2 separate regions of the Homo sapiens genome follow, and region 2 is reported to be linked to region 1. The links are microRNA targets in miRTarBase. Many come from high-throughput screens and were not tested one by one. Region 1 holds a microRNA gene; the other region holds the end of a gene's coding sequence.

Region 1 (4,000 bases):
CCTGCCTTCTCAGAAGAGGCAGATAACACTGAAGACAATTCGGGGGTAAGTGCTGGGGCGGGGGGGGGGGGGAATGAGATTTCTGGCTTCCTGTTGCCTCCCCACCGCCATCCCTGGACTGGACGATAAACTACCTGTGAGAGGCTGTCTCCAAATATGGCTGCCAACAATTCCTCCCCCTACTAAACACGAAGCCACTCCTCCCAGTAAGGGGGCGTCTAGATTCAAGTTTGGACCACAGGTTGGCCCAAGAAACATGGACAACAACAGGGTGCAGGGGCGGGCACTGAACTCTGAGTGTCACCTGATTCAGTGGGTCAGGACATGTTGAGTGGGACGCTGGATAACCCACCATTAAATTTTCCATGCTGAACAGCTGAGCAAGAAATGGGACTTCTCTTCAAGGATAAAACAAAAAAATCAAGCCCAGTATATTTTCCTTTTCCTTGAACCTGATGAGGAAGCCTGGGATGAATCTGAGCTGGTGTTGTGACTGGCTTTGACCACCACAGAAGGCTGCAGGGGTGACACTTTGTGACATTAGAGCCCAGCCCTTAAGAAGCCTTGCAGTTTCCATTTCACCATCTTGGGAGCTAATTGCCATGGATAGAGGCGCAGTCTAGACTAGCAAAGGATGGGAGATAGCGAGGAGCGTAGGGGGACCAGCCTTCCAGCCTTCTCTATGAGGGCCTCAAAGATGTATGTGAAGCCACGATGGAATTTCCAGCCCAACCTAGCTGAGTGCAGCCTCCTGAGTGATCCCAACTGACAACCCGGGGAACAGAATAAGCACCCAGCTGAGCCCAGCCAATCCACTGAATCAGGACAACTAAGAAATCATTATTGTTTTAAGCCAGTAGGTTTTGTGGTGGCTTGCTAAAGATAAGTGATATGCTTTTCAGGAGTGGAGTCCTGTACTTTTTGTAGCTCTCCCTTCCCTTGCCTGAACCCCTGAACCCTGGCAATGGGCACTGAATCCTGGAGCTGGAAGAGGCCTCCAAAATCACTGAGTCTCACCCCTGTCATTTTATAGAAGAGAGAGCTGAGGCTCGGGAAGCCATGCAATTGACTCCAGGTCACACAGGGTAACAGGGGCAGATCCAGGAGGCAAACTCAAGCCCTTACAGGGGTTGAGCACCAAGGGTACGTCTCCACCGACTTGCAACACACCAAGACAAATGTATGTTGCAAGTCAGTAGAGAGGTACCCCTGGTGCTCACACATTCTGTCTTAAGAGGCAGTCACTCCAGCCAACTGTGGCCATGTGGGAATGTGGGCCCTGTGAAACCAGATTGTCTGACTTTTCAGAAACGCCAGAAACAGGACTTTTCTGTAAAATCTCTTGATTTTCAAATGTTGGCTAAGAATTTGAACTGGATAGATGAGCTATTAAGATTGGCCCTGGGCTTCAAGCTTGGTCCCGCTGCTGGCTTTGGGCGAGTCATATTATCTCCCAGACCTCAGTTTCCTCATCTCTAAAGTGGGCCCCGTGGCTCCTGCCCCTTTCAGGATGGCTGTGAAGGCCTGATGAGCTATTGTATTTGGAAGTACAAGCTGCAAATGGCCCTGTGACTGTTTCGTAGTCTCCATTCTCTGTGGAGGCGCCCCTTACAACATAATGAGTTAACACCCGATTTGTCTAAGTTAGAACAACATTATTCTGACCATTATCACAGAGATTGCATTTTTATGGCAGGTTTGTGAGTTGTAGAACCCTCCCATTGCATTATCTCAGGATGTTGATGGAGCTGGAAGCTGGACAGCTGCCTTAGAGACCCTCATCAGAGCCAAGCCTTTCCTCTGAGCAGGGAGGCACATTCTAGAAGTGGAGAAGAGCATGAGCTCTGGAGTCACCAGACTTGGGTTTCAATCGCTGCCTCACCACTCCCTAGGTGTCCTTGGGCCAGTCACTCCTCTCAGAGCTTTGGTTTTCTCATCTGTAAAATGGGCACAATAATACAACGACCTGTGGGGCTCTTGGGGCAACTGCACAAGGCAACACACATAATGCTGTTAGTACAATGTCTGGCACAAGAATTGACAGCTGCTGGGCGCGGTGGCTCACACCTGTAATCCCAGCACTTTGGGAGGCCGAGGCAGGTGGATCGCCTGAGGTCAGAGTTCGAGACCAGCCTGACCAACATAGTGAAACCCCATCTCTACTAAAATATACAAAAAATTAGCCGGGCATGGTGGCAGGCATCTGTAATCCCAGCTACTCAGGGAGGCTGAGGCAGGAAAATCTCTTGAACCCGGGAGGCAGAGGTTGCAGTGAGCCGAGATTGCACCACTGCAGTCCAGCCTGGGCAACAAGAGCAATACTCTGTCTCAAAAAAAAAAAAAAAAAAAAAAAGAATTGACAGCCATTCCCATGATCATGGCAGGGAAGGTGGTGCCTGGCAGGCACTGGGCAAAGAAGGAGGGTACAGCCATGAAGGAGTCTACCCCTTTCCCAGATTAGGGAGGCTGAATTGGAGTGGGGAGGGGGCCTTTGAGAAAACCTGGATGGTACCCTGAGTGGGCAGGCTGGAGGGGCCTCTCAGCTACTTGGCAAGCCAGTCAGACCCTTGCCCTGTAAGGCTCAGAACACAGTGGGTGGGGGAGAGCTGGAGATGAAAAACCTGGTACACTGGCCCCCTGTTCCCCTACTGTGAATTGAGCTTCCCATTGGTAGAAAGCAAGGATAGCAACCGTTCACATTTATTGCAAGCTTAGCACACCTGAGGCACACACTCAGCTTAGTCTTCCTCAGATTAACACATCCATTGCTCACAACCATCTCAAGAGCTAGGAACAATGATTACCCCCATTTGAAAGATGAGGAAACCAAGGCTCAGAGAGGTGAAAACACAAGCCAGAGGACACACAGTACGGAGCAGTCTGACTCCACACACATTTCCTGTAACCCCCAGGCTCTGCTGTTTATAGAACAGGAGAGAAAGTGATCAGGGCTAAGCAAAGCCTCTGTAGGACTTCAGAGAAAGGGACAAGTCATTCTGGCCAGGGGCACGAGGGTGCTGCTGACATTTAATGGTTACGGAAACTAATAAAGAATGGACACAGCTGAGTGCCAGGCAGTTCTGCCAGTCATGGTACACAGCATCTCACTGAATCCTCGCCATGAGCCTCTGACACATGCGCGGTATTCTCCAGTTTCCAGATGAGGAAGCTGAGGCTCAGAGAGTGGATCACTTGGTCAAGGCCACACAGCAGGCAAGGTCCCCTCTTCTGAGGACACTCCCACCCCACAGGGGCTGCAGCAGGGGGGCAGATGGCTCCAGGAAGCTCACCTAGTGAGGGTGTCCTAGGCAAGCCCCCAGATGACACGGGGGTACTGGGGAGACAGGTGTCCCCCTCCTGCACCCTCCGGAAGGCAGCTGCTTTAAAAGGCCCTAAAATGCTTTCAAGGCAGCCTTATCAGAAGGCCTGAGCTGATCCCAATCAGGGAGCCTCCAGGTGCTGCCACAATCAACAACTGCCTGGCCTGCTGCCCCACCCCTGGGAGCTGTGCAAACATTCTTTCCTTCCCTGCCTTCCCCCAGCTAACCCTCTTTTTATGCACGAGCCAGCGGCAGCCAGGGCTGGTGGGCGCTAACTCTGATTGATTTCACTTCATTTCAGTCTTTTCCAGTTTCCTGCTGAGGTTTCTCTTCCTCTTTCCCAGGAGTCCTGTGTTTTATCATAGGCCGCTGGGGGGCAAATTTGCCTGCCTAATGGAAAGACCTGGAGAGTATGTTAAAAATACAGACTCCCCAACCTTGTTCCCCATCTCCCAGATCTCCAGCTAAGTCAGGCATGCAGGTGCCAGGTCAGGAGACGGGTCCTTGGTCGGAGGTGTGGAAGATCCTCCCGTCAGGAGGCCCACCGTGCTCTGCATCTCCGCCACCCTCAGTGGGAGCATGGGTCCCCTGCCTTGCCCAGCCCAGGCATCCTGTCACCAGCAGGCTCCATCTGCCCCTTCCTGTTAGGGGCCTTTCTATGTGCAGAGGTCCAGTCTCCA
Region 2 (4,535 bases), not on the chromosome of region 1:
TTGTGAAGGCAGCATTTAAGAGTAACTAGAAAATGGAAGTTAGTAATAAAGCAAACAAAGAAGGGCAATAAACACCAGGCAGAAACTGTCAAAGAATTATAGTCTAATGAACTGAAAATTGAAATGGCAAATAAAATGCTAGATGTAATTTAATCAAGGGATTCTTTCAAGTACAGTGCATCAACCTGGTAGTAACTATAGTTTGACAGTCTCAAAGAAGTGAAAAATTAATATTCAAGAAAATTGTGAAAATAACCAGTTAGCAAATTTACTGCTCAAATCCAATTCTGTATTCAAAAAATATTAAGAGCTGATCAATGATTTATTTTCATACCTCATTACAGTAAGAAAAAGCCCTCTGAAATTTATATTTGAAAGCAAACTGGGACAAAAATCTGCTTTATCTATGAACTTCCCACTAGAAAATACAAGCATACCATTATTAGAGAACATAAGACATCAAAAGCCTTATGTTTTAAAACCATACTGAAATCATTTACCAAATAACAAAGATCTTAATCTAAAAGATAGTGAATACATCATCATCATGAAATCTGGTTTTATGTGCTCTATGAAGTACTTGGAGAATTGCTTTTTTATTTTTCTTTTGCTTTATTAGGTCACACAAAACAGAATGAATTAGCAGAAAAATGTATGTTATAAAACAGCATTTACTACTTCAATTTAATTTTTTTTACTAACAATTGTGGACCTTTTTGATGACACTTATGTATGTTTTTAATAAATTATGTACTTATTAGTACTTAATGAGCCCTTCCTGCCTCAATATAAAATTACTAAACTTGGAGAATTACAGATTTTATTGTAGGCCCTGATGTTAGTCACTTTGGAGAAGCTAAAAATTTGGCCAAAATGAATGATCCAATGATCCTTTAAGTTATCTTTATATTTAATATAGTGTGATCCTGGACTACACTGATTTAAAACATGCTTTTTGAAAAATGTCTTAGTAATTGGGCAGTAATCTTCAGTGTGTTTCAAACACTACTTGCACCAAAATCACGTAGGTTGTTGGGTATTGGTTCTCAAACTAGGATAAGAAAGACACCTGCAGAGTTTGCTTAAACACAACTGCTAGCCCCTGCCCCTGCCCCTGCCCCTAGAGTATCTGATTTAGTAGATCTGATCTGAGATGAGGCCCCGAGAGAGGCTGCATTTCCAACAAGTTCCCAGGTGACGTTAATGCTGTTTGTTGGGACCAGACTTTTGACAGTCACTGCCCAAGGTATCTGGTAAGAATGCATACTCTTGGGCCCCATGCTTAAATTTGAATTTCTGAGATTGGGGTCTTCAGATCTGCATTTAACAACATCCTGGGCAAGTGTGAGAACCACAGTTTAAGAATCACTGTGACAATTTGGCTGGGTTAATTTGACTATTACTGGCCAATGCATCAGACGTCATATATCATATACATAAAAATGGAAATAATGCTACATGAATAGCCCCAAGCCTGATACGGTTCCAATGAACACACAGGGTTTTGAATATAAATCCTACCTCTGTTACTTACTAGCTTTGTGACAGTGACAAAGTTACTTTGTCTCTGAGCCTCAGTTTCCTTATCTATAATAGGGGTATAACACCCAAATTTTGAGGATTAACACTATTATACACAGATTATCTAAGCACAGTACCTAGCATACAGTTGGCATTGGATAAATACTAGCTATTACTTATTTCCTTCAGTATCTGGTCAAAGCAAATTTTTCATTCACTTAAATGCAGTACTTACACTCCAAGGTAACAGAATAATAATACAATCTTCTATTTATTGCTCCCTATCAATGTTCTAAAAACCTTACATTTATTTAATCCTCATAAAAATCCTGTGAGGTAGGTAGTATTATCATCCCTAATTAAAAGATGAGGAAATTGAGACACAGAGAGATTAAAATTGCTCAAGGTTACAAAAACAGTAAGTGTTAGAGCAAGAATTTAAACCCAAGCAAGTCTGACTCTAGAGCCCAGGATTCATCACAATATTCATTTCCTATGAGCAAATCTCAAGGTTTTTGGATATCTATAGTAAACCATTTATACTTCTAGTCAAGTAACACATATGAAAATTCATGTCCACACCATGGTGAAGAGTTGTTCAAAGAATAAAATGAATGCCTTGAAATTTTGGCAGATGATACTACCATGATAATAGGTAAAAACTGGTGCATGTTTTCACTACGTGGACAGAGTAGTCCATGGTTAACCAATGAAATGAACATCCTCTCAAATATACCATTCAAAGAGGTCATGATTTTGACATGTTTTGGCACAATAAATAGAAATTACTTAGCCGGGTGCTGTGACTCACGCTCGTAATCCCAGCACTTTGGGATGCCAAGGTGGGTGGATCACCTGAGGTCAGGAGTTCAAGACCAGCCTGGCCAACACGGCAAAACCCTGTCTCTACTAAAAATATGAAAACTGGCGGGGCGTGGCAGCGCGTGCCTGTAATCCCCGCTACTCGGGAGGCTGAGGCAGGAGAATCGCACCACTGCAGTCCAGCCTGGGAGACAGAGTGAGACAGTCTCCGAAAAAAGAAATTACTTAGCTAAATAGCAGAGTCAGTGGCATGACTGCCATGTAAAATTGGCATAATGATAAACATGAGGGAAATGTAAATACTTTGTACCATAAAAATAATCTCATAGAAAGTCTGTAAAATATTCTGCTATGACACTCAGTACTGCTAAAGATAATAAAAATAAAAAATTTCTTTCCTTTCAGAAACTCTTTAAACAGAGTCACTAAAAATAGAATGAAACATTTGTGAATGTTTTTGATGACAGTCTTGACTAGGTATTCTGCATTGTTAGAATTATCCATTAGCAAAACAATTATCCCAAAATAGCACCAACCTTCAGACTGTTATTTATAAATTAAGTATCTACTCTTTCAAAATATAACATTTTTGTTTAAGCACTCTACATTTTCTATTGTTTTTAATTCTCATCAAAATCTTGCTTTCTAAATAATCTTGCCACTGTAACTAATAGCCACCTCAGATCCTATAAACTAATTTTAAAACTCTGCTTTAAACAAGTTATGAAAGGCACAAACAAGTTCTCATCCCAACAGGATGAGAATGAAATAAACCATAACTATGTAGTTGGAAAGAGTTTAAAATATCAATTTAAAATGTCACTTAGTAATTCCTGAGAGTGGCACTGTTATAAGAAAAGCATCCTGAAACAGCATTAAATTTATTATTAGTTACCCATAATGAACAATGGGCAAATTTGGGAACAAATATGTAAAATACATGTTTACAGAATGCTATGAACGGTTTGAGTAAATTAATGTTAATAGTGGAGAATGGTATTCAAGAGTGGCTAAACACATTTAGAAAAGAGACAACAGAGATTGCGTAAAAGATGACTAATTAGAATCAAGTATATAATATAGTCAAGGCCCATGATAATTTTAAAGTGTGGTTTTATTAATGCACTTCAGGGTAAGTGCCAGTCTTATTTTAGCTTCTTCTGGAAGAAATACTACCAATTATAAATAATCACAGCAACATTTTCATTAGACAAAAACTGTGTGTGTGGGTGTGGTAGGGGGGTATCATTTATAGCATACTGCAAATATAAACTCAATTCTTGAGCTATATTAACAACACTGAGCAACAATATTTCTTTCTAAAATTTTCTTTTCTTTAAGGCAGATCTGTTTATTACTAACATGGTGCAGTGTAGTTTTAGTAAATTTACTATTTTAGTTTCTCAGTGACAATAACACAGATGGTCAGAAAACAGGCAACAAAATCTCTTTTCTAGTTCCTCTACCTGGCCACCATTTAAAAAACACAAGTTCCTCATATATATAGACATATTTATATATTACTGTATCAAAACACATTTTAACACACTTCACAGCTCATTTAAAGCTTCAGTTTATAGTCATTCATGTGAAAGGTTTCTATAAGGAATGTTCACTTAGAATTCCTCACTGGGATTCCAGTGTTCTATGTCAGAAATGCAGAAGTCCTTTTTCAGTGCAGTGCTAGACATATTACCTTTGTTCATTCATGATTTTCTTTCAAGGATTTCCTAACTTCACTTTTGTATCTTCATTTTTGTTTGCTTGACTAATTTCCTTTAGTATACGTTCAGGTAAGGTAGGTTGATATCTGTATAAATAACCATATGGACGAAGATGATAAACGAGGTATTCTAACTCATACATGGTTGTAGAATCAACATAGTGAAAAGAAACTGCAAGATCAGAGCAGCAACCAGGACCCTAAAAAAGTAGTGGAAACAGGTATTGTTAATAAACAGCACATTGCTAGCTACAATATTTACATACTTATAAAGGACCAGCTAATTTTAAAAGAATACAAACATTAAAGATGGCAAGGTAAAGCAGAGGAACCTAATGTACTAGACCTGTGGAAGAAATCAATAGTTTACTTAGACATCCTAATGATTTAAAACCAATTGAAATTGGTGAAACCAAGTGAAACTGTGGAAAGTATTTTTAAATGAAACAATATTCTCTCACACTCTTTA

What was found. Region 1 holds the annotated microRNA hsa-miR-4684-5p (CUCUCUACUGACUUGCAACAUA, at 1,182-1,203, opposite strand). A microRNA usually pairs through its seed, bases 2 to 8, with sites in the 3' UTR of a target mRNA and lowers its output. Matches are read on the target gene's strand: a 7mer-m8 pairs with bases 2 to 8, a 7mer-A1 pairs with bases 2 to 7 and ends in A, and an 8mer does both.
Region 2: miRTarBase lists C1GALT1 as a target of hsa-miR-4684-5p. Seed matches in the 3' UTR shown: 7mer-m8 at 2,425-2,431.

Annotation. Positions count from the first base shown.
Region 1 is chr1:22,716,733-22,720,732 of GRCh38, reverse strand. It overlaps MIR4684 (microRNA 4684), which reads right to left and starts at 1,216; the gene lies at 1,135-1,216. The region is part of intron 1 of EPHB2 (EPH receptor B2); the gene reads right to left. RefSeq lists an enhancer at 2,880-3,569.
Region 2 is chr7:7,243,255-7,247,789 of GRCh38, reverse strand. It overlaps C1GALT1 (core 1 synthase, glycoprotein-N-acetylgalactosamine 3-beta-galactosyltransferase 1), which reads right to left. Exons shown (of 4, transcript NM_020156.5): 4 at 1-4,266. The coding sequence ends at 4,063. Among named protein-coding and RNA genes, the nearest start is that of LINC03016, 9.6 kb to the left of the region's middle.